4 linked regions of the Homo sapiens genome follow. The protein of the gene in region 1 purifies or fractionates together with the protein of each later gene. This does not show direct contact. Each region holds a gene or a part of one and is shown on either strand. Other genes may lie near its edges.

Region 1 (3,500 bases):
ATTTTGCCATCATCTAAAAAGAAATACAGTCTGGCCGGGAGTGGTGGCTCACGCCTGTAATCCCAGCACTTTGGAAGGCCAAGGCGGGTGGATCACGAGGTCAGGGGTTCGAGAGACCAGCCTGACCAACGTGGTAAAACCCAGTCTCTACTAAAAATACAAAAATTAGCTGGGCGTGGTGGCGGGCACCTGTAATCCCACCTACTCAGGAGGCTAAGGCAGGAGAATTGCTTCAACCTGGGAGGCGGAGGTTGCAGTGAGCCAAGATCACACCACTGCCCTCCAGCCTGGGCGACAGAGCGAGACTCCGTCTCAAAAAAAAAAGAAATACAGTCCTTCTTGCCTGCAGATACAACACCTAGGACAGTAACTAGTATATAGTAGGCAGGGGTGAACTATGAGGCAGCTATTCAGTAAGAAAAACTGCTGAGGCCAACTGCCTAAGCTCAAGTCCTCAAAATAATTTCTCTTAGATTCATCAATCGAAATAAAATCCAAAATGGCTTGAGTCTAAATAAAACATAGAAAAATTGACAAAGATTTCACCATACCTGGTTTGTTGGAATGAATCGCCAACATGGCAGAGAATACCTTGCTAAGTCGAGTTTTAGTAGCCTGTAAAAAAGGAAAATATTTCTACTTCCTGCACAGATAAATCATTGATCTTACTCTCTAAGTAATATGTACCCTAACTTTACCAACTGTAAAATCCAATGGAGCATGACATGCTATTGCTAGGGATATATAAACGAACACAGACCCTCAAAATTTTCTACCTCAATTAAACCACTAAACACTTTAAATATCTTTTTAAAAAGTCAACTGTATTGAACAAACACACGTAAAAATTATATTCTTTTCAATTGAATTGGAAACCATAGTCATTCAGATATCCAATGTTATATTGATGTTCCGCCTTCTTGGGTTCTTTTTTCATGTTAACCCTACACTTCAGGAAAAAACATCTGGCATGAAGCTTAAAGGGCAGATTAACAAAAAGACGGTCAGAGGAAGCAAGACATGCATGGCTTTACTCACCCACTTCTTACAAAAAGCCACATAGGAGAGCCAAAGTTGAACATCGTCCTGCAAGAAAAGCAATGTAGTAAGCTGCCCAAATTTGACCTTTACATATAATACACCTTTGCATTAATTAATTTTGCTAAAAACAAGCAAATTTCAGGTTGGATGCGGTGGCTCACACCTGTAATCCCACCACTTTGTGAAGCCGAAGCGGGCGGATCACTTGAGGTCAGGAGATTGAAACCAGCCTGGCCAACATGGTGAAACCCCACCTAACCTAAAATTACAAAGATTATTGGGAGGCCAAGGCGGATTGATCACTTGAGGTCAGGAGTTCAAAACCAGCCTGTCAAATATGGTGAAACCCCGTCTCTACTAAAAATACAAAAAAATTAGCCGGACTTGGTGGCAGACCCCTGTAATCCCAGCTACTCAGGAAGTTGAGACAGGAGAATCGCTTGAAGCCGGGAGGCCGAGATCGGGCCACTGCACTCCAGCCTGGGCAACATAGGGAAGCTCCAACTCAAAAAAACAAACAAAAAAAATTAGCCAGGTGTGGTGGTATGTGCCTGTAATCCCAGCTACTAGGGAGGCTGAGGCAGAAGAATCACTTGAACCTAGGAGGCGAAGGTTGCAGTGAGCTGCCGAGATTGTGTGCCACTGCACTCTAACCTGGGTGACAGAGCAAGACTCCACCTCAAAAAAAAAAAAAAAAAAAAGCCAGGCACAATGGCTCAGGCCTGTAATCCCAGCACTTTTGGAGGCTGAGGCAGGTGGATCACCTGAGGTCAGGAGTTTGAGACCAGCCTGGCCAAGATGGTGAAACCCTGTCTACTAAAAATACAAAAATTAGCCAGGCGCGGTGGTGCGTGCCTGAAGTCCCAGGTACTGGGGAGGCTGAGGCAGGAAAATTGCTTCAATCTGGGAGGCAGAGGTTGCAGTGAGCCAAGATCACACCACTGCACTCTAGCCTGGGCAACAGAGCAAAACTCCATCCCCCACCAAAAAAAAAAAAAAAAAAAAAGAAGCAGATTTCAGAAAATCCAGTCACCTCTCATCCTATCTGGCTCTTCCTCACAAAGGCCTCCGATCTCTTAACTATGATAATTCAACCTTTCCCCCAACTCCCACTCACAATGCTCCAAAAAAACTTTGTTATCTATCCAGTTGGTTTAATGCAGTTCTTAAAGAATCTCAATCTGGGGTAGCAATATAAAATTTGTCATTACCAAGAATCCAAAATACTTCTCATATAATATACCCAATCCCAAACACTCCCGTAATCCCAGCACTTTGGGAGGCTGAGGTGGGCAGATCACTTGAGCCCAGGAGTTCGAGACCAGCCTAAAAAACATGACGAAACCCTATGTCTACCAAAAATACAAAAATTAGCCAGGCACGGTGGCATGCGCCTGTGATCCCAGCTACTGGGGAGGCTGAGGTGGGAGAATCATTTGAGCCTGGGAGGCAGAGGTTACAGTGAACCGAGATCACCCTACTGTACTCTAGTCTGGGCAACACAGTGAGACCTTATCTCAAAAAAAAAAAAAAAAGAAAAAAAAAAAAATCAAGTTTCTGAGGTATTGCCCCTACATAACCATTTATTTTCTAGCTCTAAGTCTTCAGTGTACTTACAAATATATACAAATATCTCCCAAATTTCCAATCCTTAGTAATGTATCAAATACACTGTTTTCAGCACTGTCCTCATAGAATAACTATAAGGTAATAAGATCAATTTTCTTACTGGTTTGTTAAGTGGCTCAAAAAATGTTTTGAGTAATGATACCATCATTAGAGTAAGTATAAAGATACCCAAGATAAAAATAGAAAACTGCATTTGAATCCCTAATACAATATGTATAATACTTATCTTCACATCTCATAAAGTTAAGGATGCCTTGATCACTCACTTTCCATTTTGCTGAGGCACGCTGGAAAACACCTTGTACCCGGTGTACAATAGAATTCTCAATCTCATCCTTCTTAAATGAATATCCAATGCGCTAAAGGGGGACATAAAAAAACAGAGCCTCAACTTAATCATATTTGTCCAAAACAGCATTCCTACTTGACCACTTAATGGTACTGATGAAGCAAACAAATAATTACAAATATCCATTATAGGCATATCACCACAGTTTTATCAACACTGTCTCCCAAACACAAGTCCTAACTATACAGCCATACTGCTTAGTTCTGTATTTTTCTCCAACTTCTAGAAAATCTTCTACTTACTGTTCTTCTTCTCTGGATCAGCTCCAAAAGATTAATTTCATACTATGAAAGAAAAACATACAAAAAAATGAGAAGCTAGAAAATCTAAAACCTTTTAAATACTGGAAATTTAGTTAAAGTCATAAAACAAAAATCGAGAATATAAAATAAAAAATAATGTGCTATCACATAATTTACAATAAATGTCTAGAACTCACTTAAAATTCACTTAGCTATAAAACTTAAACAGAATTAACAAG
Region 2 (4,168 bases), on another chromosome or scaffold:
CAGTCACAAATTCTCAAGAGTCTGGTTTAGATGCTCTGTGGCACCTGAAGCAATTATTGGCCTTTGCTCACAAACACAACTCACTTATTTCTCCCTTTTCTCCTGCTTCTTCATCGTTTCTTCCACCCAGGGCTGGTTCCCAGGTGGGATGACGGAAAGGTGAGGAAGCCCTTAGAGCATTTGCCAATGGGAGCCATTCATTTGACTTTAAAGTACTGAGAATTTAGAGGCGTTCTTTTAAATGCATTATTTAAAAAGAAAGGTAACACATTAAGGACTTTGCTGCATCTTTTGATTGGCTTTCTTCTAGGAAGTAGTGACCGAGGTTTCCACTTTCCTCCAAGAGGAAGAGACAGAAGTTTTGGCAAATAGGTCAATGCTGGGAACAGATGCCTGCCTGGCTGAGTGCTGGGAAAGAAAGGCAGTTGGAGGGATGTGTGGGTGCCTGGGAGGGCGTGGGTGGTGCCCAGGAGGCTATGGGAATCAGAATCACACTTGCACAAGAGAAGACCCTTATGGGACAAGTAAAATCAGCATAGTTTCTTGGGCGGGGCAAAGGTGTCCTGATGAGGATGCTAGGGGTCAAATATGTGTCTGGGTTCTGCCCCAATCGGGAATGAGACACAGTACTGAAGTGGAACGGGGGTAGCATCTCCACCCACCTTCACAGCCTCTGGGGAAAAGAAAGCTTTCCTTGCAGCCCAACTCCAGGGGCCTAAATATTGAGCACCAACACAAGACAGGTCCTTGAGCTTCTCGGAGCGAGTCGGGGAAGCAGATAATTTCAGATGCAAAGTGCCTTGAATAAACAGAACGAAAGATAGAGAGCCAGAGGGGGAGAAACGGCTTGGTGTGGTCAGGGCAGGCATCCATGAGACCTAAACGAAGAGGGGGCATTCCAGACAAAAGGAACAGTGATCACAGAGGCCCCGAGTCAGGAACCAGCTAAGGGTCTTAGAGAAGAGCTGCCTCGTAAAGCTAAGCAACAATAACCAGGGAACGGTGGGCATGGGCCCTGATAGACAAGGCAGGTCTTGGCTTTTTAAGCCATAGAATTGGATTTTAGGAGGGATGGGCCCGCCGACAAAGCCAACAAAGTTTTAACCCGAAGATCGCTATCTTATTTATGCTTTAAAAAGACCTCTCTGGCCTTTCTGCGAAGCTCTATCCTTAGCTTTCTCTTGTTAGCATTTTGATTAACGAATGTGGGCACGAACAGCCAGCTGACCGACCGCGCGCGCAGTCGAGCGTCGGTTCCTCGCCTTGGGAGGGACCACTGGAGGCCCCGCCCCCTGGCCGCGAGCGCACCTCGGCCCCGCTCCCGAGGCCCTACGGGCGTGGCCTCTGTCCCGGGTCCCGCCCCCCAGCACTCCGGAACAGCGCGCTCGCAGCGGGAGGTCGCGAAGCCTGGGACTGTGTCTGTCGCCCATGGCCGCCGCGCTGCTCGCCCGGGCCTCGGGCCCTGCCCGCAGAGGTGAGTGCGCTGGGGATCCGTACGGCGGGGCTTCAGCCCGCGTCTGGCCCAGCGGGCGGAGGTCCTGGCGGCCGGCTCTGTCAGAGCCGCTGGCAGGCGGAGCCCCACTCCGGGAGCGCTCACGGCCTTTGCCCCAGTTCTGCTGCTCCTTGCGCCGACCCAGCCCGGCCCTTCAGGCGTCCCTGGTTCCTGCACAGACCCCTACCCCCCGATTGACCCCAGCCACCAGCCCAGTTCCCAGTTCCCATATCTCCCTCCCTTCATTTCACCCCCACTAGAGGTTCAGGGTGCGTCCTTCTTCCGGAGCCAGGCCTGGGATTGAACCAGACCCGCATCTGTGACCTTGGGCAAGACAGCCCCTCCTCAGCCTCGGTTGGCCCATGTGTAAAATGTCCACAGAGAAAATCAGAGTTGTTGGGAGGATTAAATCATAGGGTATGTAAAGCACTTCGTGCCTGGCGTGTAACAGGTGTTCCACAAATGCTCGTTCTTGCTGGTTAATACAGTACCTTTCCCATCTTACGTGTCTCCAGTTGTAGCAGCCGTGACACATATAGCCACGGCTTCCTTTGCCTGGCCTGAATTACAAGGGGAACGCTACTGAGAACTGTGTTAAGCGCTAGTTAGTCTTTCTTTCGCACTCCGAGGAGCGGAATACTATTCGCCTCCACTTGTTATAGAAACGGAGGCTCACTGACGTTTAAAACCCTTGCCTAAGGTCACAGAGCTGAGGTCTTATTACTGTTGGTATTATACTGAGGACTGAAGGATGTAGTGTATGGAAATGTCTAGTGAGTGTACTAAGCATTCAGTTAGTATGGGGTTTTCAGTGGCCGCCATGGACATTTTGGGCTGACAGTTCTTTGTTGTGGGGGCTGTCCTCTGCCTTGTTGGATGTTCAGCAGGGATCCCGGACCCCTATCCACTGGGTACCAATAGTATTCCCCTGCTCTAGTTGTGACAACTAGAACTGGCTCCAGACATTGCCAGATGTCCCTTGGAGGGCAAAATCCTCCCTGGTGAGTTAGTGGGTCACTAGGATTCTTGGAGACCTCCTGCCTCCTCCTTCCACTCACTTCTGCCCTTGCCGGCAGCTCTCTGTCCTAGGGCCTGGCGGCAGTTACACACCATCTACCAGTCTGTGGAACTGCCCGAGACACACCAGATGTTGCTCCAGACATGCCGGGACTTTGCCGAGAAGGAGTTGTTTCCCATTGCAGCCCAGGTGGATAAGGAACATCTCTTCCCAGCGGCTCAGGTGAGAGTGCAACCTCAGCAGCCCACGATAGTGGTCTGCCCTCTGCTACTGGATGAATGGTGGCAGTGACAGTCAGCGGCACTCGGACTCTGGTAGAGGAACCCCAAAGCAGGGCCTGGAACCCAGAAAATGCTCTGGAAGTTTCCCTTGTCCAGCCTGTGGCCAGTAGCCAGGACTTAACTTCTGGGACAACAGTAATATGTGGTGGATGGTCAGTTGCTTACTGTGCCAGCCACTGTGCTCATTCTAAATAGTGCCTTTAGGGTGTTTGGCATGCACTAGGCACTGTTCTTGAGATGGGTTATCTCATCTGTTCCTCACAACGGTCCTGTGAGGTGAAGGTACTATTCTTATTTATTTTTTTGAGACGGAGTTTCACTCTTGTGGCTCAGGCTGGAGTGCAATGGTGCGACCTCGCCTCACTGCAGCCTCTGCCTCCTGAGTTCAAGTGATTCTCCTGCCTCAGCCTCCCAAGTAGCTGGGATTATAGGCGTGCACTGCTCTGCCCCGCTACTTTTGTATTTTTAGTAAAGACGGCGTTTCACCATGTTGGCCAGGCTGGTCTCAAACTCCTGAATTCAGGTGATCTGCCCACCTCGGCCTCCCAAAGTGCTGGGATTACAGGTGTGAGACACCACGCCCGGCCAAAGGTAGTATTATTATATACCCCATGGACTCAGACTTGTGAACAAGTTAAATAACATACCCAAGGTCATGGAGCTCATCAGCGGCAGCCTGCTCGACCTATTTTCTTTTTTATTTACTTATTTTTTTTTGAAATGGACTCTCGCTCTGTTGCCCAGGCTGGAGGGCAGTGGCGCAATCTCAACGCACTGCACCCCTCTGCCTCCTGGGTTCAAGCAATTCTCCTGCCTCGGCCCCCAGTAGCTGGGATTACAGGCGGGCACCACCACGCCCAGCTAGTTTTTGTACTTTCAGTAGAGATGGGGTTTCTCCATGTTGGGCAGGCTGGTCTCAAACTCCTGACCTTAGGCGATCTGCCCGCCTTGGCGTCCCAAAGTGCTGGGATTACAGGCGTGAGCCACCGTGCCCGGCCTGCTTGAACTGTTTTCTCCCCTGAGTTTCCCATCAGCGCGCTCCCTCCCGTGCCACTGTGTTCTTCCATTTGCATTCAGTCTGTCTGCAGCTACGCGTTGAAGATGTTACTGCCGTACACGCTGACCTAAAGATGTCCAGCACCTGGTGTAAACACTCAGTAGTAGATAGTTGTTTAATTAATGATTTGTGAAAAGTCAAACCTCTCCGGCCTCTTCTCCTTGCCTGTTTTTTTTTTTAATTTTAATTTTAATTTATTTTTTATTTTTAAAAATTTTTTGAGACAGTCTTGCTCTGTCACCAGGTTGGAGTGCAGTGGCGCGATCTCGGCTCACTGCAACCTCCGCCTTCTGAGTTCAAACAATTGTTTCCTGCCTCAG
Region 3 (4,073 bases), on another chromosome or scaffold:
GAGGGGGAAACAGGCTCCAAGAGAAAGCACCTACCCAGGTCACCCCTGTGGGCATCAGCTGGGATTGCAGCCCCCTAGACAGAGGCTGGGGCAGATCCCCTCCATTTTAGAGCCCTCCATTCTCCCTGATCCTAGGATTTGCCGGAAGGAAGCCGGTGCTGCAGGGGCGAGAGATCTGGGCTGGTGAAGGCTTGAACCCTCAGCTGAAACGCTGAGATGAGTGGTTAAAGGAAGCAGACTCCAGGCTTAGAAGGACCTCAGCGGGGCAGGAAGCAGCCCCAGGGGCAGGGGCAAGCCAAGGCAGCTCTGCATAGCCCTTGGGCACCCTGGTTCCGGGGGTCTCCAAGTGTCACCACCTTCCTGGGGCAAGGGGCGGCCCCCTGGATGCCTTCCCAGGCCACCCCCTCCCCAGGACAAAGCCTCTTTTCTGCGTCTGGTCCCTTGGCTGCCAAGGGGTGCCTGGGGTGCTGGGGTGTGGGTGGCAGGAAGGCTGACAGGGCATGACACCCCCATGCTGTCTCCAGCAACGTGGGGATGGGGCCACAAGTGGAGGTTCTGGTAGCCCACAGACTCCTCAAGCTCCAGGTCCCTACCCCCATGTGACATGATTGATAGCAGGAACCACTGCAGGTGAGGCCCGGTGCTGGTCCTTCCCACGAGGAAAGAAGGAAACTGAGAGCAAAACTGAGACCCATGGCCAGGAAGTGACCCACTTGAGGTCACACATCAAGCCTGTAAGAGCAAGGAATTCTGTCTCCATTCTGTCCAAGGCTGGAGCCCCTAACTCCTAATCATGACTGCAAACCTTTCCTGGTGCCCCCAAGCCGACAACCTCTTTCCCTCTTCCAGCAAGGCTGCTGGAGAGAAAAAGCCACTGGATTTGGAAATCGACTGGTCTGGACTGAGGTGCCACTTGTCCTCTGTAGGCCTCAGCCTCCGTATCTGTACAATGGGTGCAATAGTGTTGCCCACAGGGTTTTTGGGATGCTCAGGCTACTGTGATAGGCTTCTGTCAACACATGGAGTGACAGTCCCCAGTGACCACCAGATACCTGGTTATAGCCATCATCCTGTTCCCACCCAGGAGACCCTGGGAGGTGAGGAGCCCAGGCTGGGAAGCCCTGCCTTGAACTGGCTGCAGGGCGGTCTGGGCCTTAAGCTGTCGCCACCATCATCCTGAGCCTAACAGTGGGATTTCTGAGTTCATAGTCTCTGTCCTCTTAGCATCTGGGATCCTGGCGGCTCACTTCCATGCTCTGGGCAGGTCATGTTCCCTCTCTGAGCCTCATCTTCCTCCTCTATGAAACAGAATCATAAAGAGCATACCTCCAAGCAGCTGGGAGGATTCTGGAGCTGATGAATGCAGGTAACGGAGCCGACTCAGGCTAACTGTTGTCTGCACACAATAGGTGGTGGCTGTAACATCTGCCACACGTCCACCCCTGTCTCAGACAACTGCTCTTCTGGCCTCTGATGCTTCAACCACCTCCGTCCTCCAGCCCTGCCCATGTCAACTGCTCTTGCTAGCCCAGCAGGGGCATGCTGGCCCCTGACCACTGGGAAAGGAGAATTTCTGAAAAGAATTAAAGAATTGAGGCCGTAGGGGGTGGGGGCCGCGCAGGCCTTTGAATGGGATGAAAAGGCCTGGAGAGGCCTGGCTACTCCACATTGTCTGCCTTGGACAACGGCGGCTGGCCTTTAGGAGGGGACCCTCGCTGGGGCTGCAGCCAGGACAGAGGCCAGGACAGGTTCAAACACTGTCATCAAGGATAGAAGGGCAGATTTGCAACCTAGCTCTTCAGTGAATAGCCCATGAGGCTAAAAGATGATGCCAATTCCCTAGGGTCTCAGTTTGCTTAACCGTTGAATGGGGACAGTTTTCCCTACCTCATTCGGTCCTTCAAGGATTGATGAGGACACTATATATAATAATGGGCCCCACCATGTCAGGTTCTGGGAGCTCCTCCGTAAAGGCCAGCAGGGAGGAGGTTCCCCGCCGCTAGGAGAGCAGAAGGAAGACTGTGCTCCCTCTTTTCTCTGTCCAAAATGCCAGGTCCCTGGGGTATCTCCGACACTGACCCACTGGGCTGTGAGACTCCACCCCAGTCCCTCCTCCGAGGGAGATAAATAGCCTGGGTACAAAACAAACAAACAAAAAACAAAACAAAGCAAAAAAACAGGAACAGGGAAAAGGGGAGAGAGGGTCCGAGAAGAGTCGGCTAGGGGGTGTCATAGGCCTTTCCCAAGTGCAGGGGGAGGGGCCCTAGGGACAGGGGAACAGAAGGGCCAGGGCTTCGCCCTCGTTGCGCCCCTTCCCCCTCCTCTCGAGCTCCTGGGTTGAAAGGGAGGGAGTAGGGGAGGCAGCCAGCTCCGACACATGGAGTAGGGGACCCCGCACTCGCGGGAGCCTCAGCCGGACCGCGGGATGGCCGTGTCCCTGCCCTCACCCGGGCTGGGGACTGGATCGCCCTCCAATCCCAGCCCTTCCTGGAGGTGGGGGCGTGTGCGCGCCGGGACCCTCGGCCAGCGGGGTGCAAAGGCGCCGGGAGCTCTTACCTGCGTCCGGAGAACGGAGCTGCCCCGATGCTCCACGCAGCGCCGCCTCCCGGGAGCAGGAGCCCGAGGCAGAGCAGCGCCCAAGCCCGCGGGCCGCCCATGCTGCACCAGGCGCCCTCCGCGCGCGGCCCCTCGCGGTCGCCGCCCCCAGCCTGTCCTCCCCGCCTGCCTGCCCGCGCCGCCAGCCGCCCCGGACGCGCGGAGCCCGGTTTCCAGCTCCGCGGCCGGAGGGCGGGCAGGAGGCGGGCGGGCGGGGGCGGGGGCGCGCGCTCCCGGCCTCGCCCGGCCCCTCTGCGCTGCCCCCCGCCCCCTGCGCCGCCGCTGCCAACCCGGAAGGAGCCCGGAGGGGCCCGGGCGGCCAGGGCGCCCCCGCCAGGAGGCCCGCCAGGTGTCCACCTGAGCCCCACGCCCTGCGCCGCGGGGCCCTTTTGGGGGCGGGGTGCCAGCTCCGAGGTGTCCTCCCACGGGCTGTAGACTGGGAAACTGAGGCCCGGGCCACGGTCCCAGACGCAGCCGGGACCCGAACCCACCTCACCTGAGCGAATGATATCCGGGACTCATCCTTTTTCGACACCTTTGCGGGATCCAGCCCTCCAAGGAAAGCTTCCTGAGCAGTGCGCGCCACGTGTATTGGGCACCTCACCGCGGCCACTTCACATCCTATCTCAGGTGACTCTTCAAGCCACTCTGCTCGAACTGGGCACAATATCCCCATTTTACAGAAGAGAAAACTGAGGCCCAGGCACTCGCAGTCTCCCTAGGAGGAGATCTGGGCTGACCCCATAAGTGCAGAGTCTGTTCTTATTCTCATTTTACAGGTGGAGAAACTAAGCCACAGAAAGGAGCTGTCATTTACCTAAAGCACCGTGGCAGGGGTTTGGCAGAGCCAGGATTTGTACCCAGATCGCCTGACTTCGGAGAGTAACAGCTCTTAACCACAGCACTTCGGTCTATGCCTTGATTTCACCATATGTAACAAGGTAAGAATTGGTGTTGGGTGGTTTCATCTGGGGTACATGGATGGGCTTCTGGAGGAATGGCTCTACATCCCACAAAGGTATATGTAAGCGTAGTGTGTGTGTGCAGGGGTGCATGTGTGTGTCGTATGTGTGTATGATGGATGTGTGTGCATGCTTGATGTGGATTTATGTGCATGTGTGTTATGTGTGTGTCTGTGATAGGAGTGTGTGTTTATAGGGAGAGACCAGAGCTCTCATCAGAGGGGACCCAGACCCCCAATCTCCCAGGGCAGTCTCTAACCCCGCCTTCTGCCTGGATCGATGGGCAGTAGTTAGGCCTGGGCTGGGGAAGCCCTTGCCCAGCTTGGCTACTTCCTGTTATGGCTTGTCCAGACCCACGGTCCCTTCTAGAAACACTCCCCAGAAAGGATCTGCCAGTCACTGGATTGCCCCTCCTGGACTCACCAGGGGCAGGCAGCATAGGCCACCATAGGCAGGCAGGCAGGCAGGACGGGGGATCCATCACCAGTGTGTCCACATAGAGAAAGCTGTTGCCCT
Region 4 (3,500 bases), on another chromosome or scaffold:
GGGGCCCAGCTGCCCTCCTCCCCATACGGCCATACGGCCCTGGCTCTCAGGAGCCACAGGAACCCTCCAGACAGCCTGTCTCTGGTTACCATGAAGACAGCTGACCCAGCAGGGGTCAGTCCATTTACAGCGACCCCCGGAGACTGGCTGCCCTCCTGCTCAATGGCTCCCGGGCGGGGCAGCCTGTGGATCCCGGCCAGGATGGCCCAGAGCTGATGGAGGGTCACACGGACACGGCTTCTTGGTCCCTACCTTTAACATTGAGAGTCTGGAGCTGGGTCAGGTTCCCAATGGAACGTGGGAGCTGCATCAGTTGATTCCTTTCCACGTTTAAGACCTAAGAAAGAGGAAGAGGCAGCCAGGCGCAGTGGCTTATGCCTGTAATCCCAGCACTTTGGGAGGCCGAGGCAGGTGGATCACAAGGTCAAGAGTTCAAGACCAGCCTGGCCAACATAGTGAAATCCCATCTCTACTAAAAATACAAAAATTAGCTGGGCATGGTGGCACACACCTGTAGTCCCAGCTACTCGGGAGGCTGAGGCAGGAGAATTGCTTGAACCCAGGAGGCAGAGGTTGCGGTGAGCTGAGATTGCACCATTGCACTCCGGCCTGGGCAACAGAGTGAGACTCCGTCTCAAAAAAAAAAAAAAAAAAAAAAAAAAGAAAGAAACAGGAAGAGGTGACACGAGAACCCACACACAGACCACAGTGATGACCCCCGCACCCCTCGCCCTGCCGGGCCAGGGCACCCAGGCACTACACACACAAGCTCTTATCTCCCCCTACCGGCCCTTGAGGAAGACAGAAATTCTTGTTTCCGCTGGAGACAGGAAAAAAACTGAAGCTCAGGGTGGCAAAGTCACGTGCTCAGGAGAGCACAGCCAGGCCTTGAACCCCTTCTGGCTGAGGTTCCAGCACTTACACCGACCACAAAATGCTCAGTAACTGCCCCACCATCAGGGAAGGAGGGAGAAGGGGACTACAGACTTGGGGATCTGGGGAGGCAGCACAGGAGGCTCTAGTTCCCCTGGCCTTAAGGAAAAGGCTGCCCTAAGGCCGTGTGATCCACCCAAGGCCTCAGGCCGGCAGTGGTGCTGGGACTGAACCAGGGCTTGTTGGATTCCGAAGCTGTGCTCCCTCCAGAAGGTGGTACCTCGAGGTGAGCAAGGCTAGCAGGATGACACACTAACCATTAAAAATAGATGCAATGGGGGCCAGGCACGGTGGCTAACACCTGTAATCCCAGCACTTTGGGAGGCTGAGGTGGGTGGATCATGAGATCAGGAGATTGAGACCATCCTGGTGAACATGGTGAAACCCCGTCTCTACTAAAATATAAAAAATTAGCCAGGCATAGTGGTGGGCGCCTGTAATTCCAGCTACTTAGGAGGCTGAGGCAGGGGAATCGCTTGAACCCGGGAGGTGGAGATTGCAGTGAGCCGAGATCACACCACTGCACTCCAGCCTGGTGATAGAGCGAGACTCTATCTCAAAAATACAAACAAACAAAAAATGATGCAATGGAAAGCTAAGTAGCCATTAAAAATAATAAGATGAATATTTGATGAACCAAAGGATGCTATGAGTTATTGTCAGGTATCCAAAAGTTACAAATTAGTGAATGCAGCAATTCTATAAAAATACACCTACTGGCCAGGTGCAGTGGCTCATGCCTGTAATTCCAGCACTTTGGGAGGCCAAGACGGGTGGATCACCTGAGGCCAGGAGTTTGAGGTCAGCCTGGCCAACATGGTGAAAACAAGTCTCTACTGAAAATACAAAAATTGTCCAGGTGTGGTGGCGTGTGCCTGTAATCCCAGATACTCAGGAGGCTGAGGCATGAGAATCTCTTGAACCCGGGAGGCAGATGTTGCAGTGAGTTGAGATGGTGCCACTGCACTCCAGCCTGGGTGACAAGAGTGAGAAAAAAAAAATACACATACAAAAAGTCCTACACCAAGGTATTTATTGTGGCTCAAAGTGGTACAATTGGTCAGGCGTGGTGGCTCACACCTGTAATCCCAGCACTTTGGGAGGCCAAAGTGAGTGGATAACTTGAGGTCAGGAGTTTGAGACCAGTCAGGCCAACAAGGCGAAACACCATCTCTACTAAAAATACAAAAACTAGCTGGGAGTGGTGGCACACACCTGTAATCCCAGCTACTAGGGAGGCTGAGGCAGGAGAATCGCTTGAACTCGGGAGGCAGAGGTTGCCTCTGCAACTCTGATGGCGCCACTGCACCCCAGCCTGGGCAACGCAGTGAGGCACTGCCTCAAAAAAAAAAAAAAAAACCCCAAAGGGCCAAGGGGAGGGTGGAGCTGGCACTGATTGCAGCCTGCTTCCACTGGCTGGAGCCCGGCCAGAACATTCCAGGCTTGAGTGACTGCCTGGTCTCACTAAGGCCATCCGAGGTGGGTTTCTGTTTCTGCAGCCTTACCTGGAGGGCAGTCAGCTGCCCCAGATCGTCAGGAAGGGCTGTCAGCTGATTATCGTGGAGATCTAGAACCTGCAGAAGAAAGACCCCTGTGAGTCTCCAAGTGAGAAAGTCCCTCAGACTCCGGGCTCCAGAGCGCTGAGGAGGGGCTGGGGCCACCTCACACCCCCAGTGCAGAAACAGAGTGCCTGCCACTCCTTTCCCACTCAGTGTTGATCATTCCCGCCTCATTTTCCTTCTCAAACCATTATACCATTTTCTTATTTTATGTATATTTATTTTTACTGTTAACTGAAAAACTATGCTATAAAACAGTATGCCTAGATACTAATATGTTAAAAAGAAACACTCCATTGTATAAATATGTAAGACTTTCAAATATGCGATAAAATATTGACAGTGGTACTCCACAGTGTAAAATTATAGATGTTTCCCCCTTTGCTTAACTGTACTTGCTAATTTTTAATTTAATTTTATTTTATTTTGTTTTATTTTGAGACAGAGTCTCACTCTGTCACCCAGGCTGGAGTGCAGTGGCACGACCTCAGCTCACTGCAACCTCCACCTCCTGGGTTCAAGTGATTCTCGTGCCTCAGCCTCCCAAGTAGCTGGGATTACAAGCACAAGCCAACATGCTCTGCTGGTGTTTTTTTTTGTTTTGTTTTGTTTTGTTTTGTTTTGTTTTTGAGACGAAGTCTCGCTCTGTCGCCCACGCCGGACTGCGGACTGCAGTGGCGCAATCTCGGCTCACTGCAAGCTCCGCTTCCCGGGTTCACGCCATTCTCCTGCCTCAGCCTCCCGAGTAGCTGGGACTACAGGCGCCCGCCACCGCGCCCGGCTAATTTTTTGTATTTTTAGTAGAGACGGGGTTTCACCATGTTGGCCAGGCTGGTCTTGAACTCCTGACCTCAAGTGACCCACCCGCCTTGGCCTCCCAAAGTGCTAGGATTATGGGTGTGAGCCACCACGACTGACTGCTAATTTTTTAAAAATGAAAATGCACAAAAAAGGCCTTGGAGAAATATTTATACATGTGCACACACAGGTACCCTCCATATCTATGGA

The links. The genes of interacting proteins can lie anywhere in the genome.
Region 2: the proteins of UTP6 (region 1) and ACADS purify together in Homo sapiens (co-immunoprecipitation; one large-scale study listed by IntAct). This does not show direct contact.
Region 3: the proteins of UTP6 (region 1) and EMID1 purify together in Homo sapiens (co-immunoprecipitation; one large-scale study listed by IntAct). This does not show direct contact.
Region 4: the proteins of UTP6 (region 1) and LRSAM1 purify together in Homo sapiens (affinity purification with mass spectrometry; one large-scale study listed by BioGRID and IntAct). This does not show direct contact.

The regions. Positions count from the first base shown.
Region 1 is NC_000017.11:31,891,709-31,895,208, forward strand, and holds part of UTP6 (U3 small nucleolar RNA-associated protein 6 homolog), read right to left. Parts: intron 3,304-3,500; coding exon 3,262-3,303; intron 3,030-3,261; coding exon 2,937-3,029; intron 1,087-2,936; coding exon 1,039-1,086; intron 616-1,038; coding exon 552-615; intron 1-551. UniProt on the Homo sapiens protein: Part of the small subunit (SSU) processome, first precursor of the small eukaryotic ribosomal subunit.
Region 2 is NC_000012.12:120,724,458-120,728,625, forward strand, and holds the start of ACADS (short-chain specific acyl-CoA dehydrogenase, mitochondrial isoform 1 precursor), read left to right. Parts: upstream 1-1,368; 5' UTR 1,369-1,428; coding exon 1,429-1,474; intron 1,475-2,568; coding exon 2,569-2,732; intron 2,733-4,168. UniProt on the Homo sapiens protein: Short-chain specific acyl-CoA dehydrogenase is one of the acyl-CoA dehydrogenases that catalyze the first step of mitochondrial fatty acid beta-oxidation, an aerobic process breaking down fatty acids into acetyl-CoA and allowing the production of energy from fats.
Region 3 is NC_000022.11:29,204,623-29,208,695, reverse strand, and holds the start of EMID1 (EMI domain-containing protein 1 isoform 1 precursor), read right to left. Parts: upstream 2,801-4,073; 5' UTR 2,658-2,800; coding exon 2,557-2,657; intron 1-2,556.
Region 4 is NC_000009.12:127,458,010-127,461,509, reverse strand, and holds part of LRSAM1 (E3 ubiquitin-protein ligase LRSAM1), read right to left. Parts: intron 2,508-3,500; coding exon 2,439-2,507; intron 338-2,438; coding exon 253-337; intron 1-252.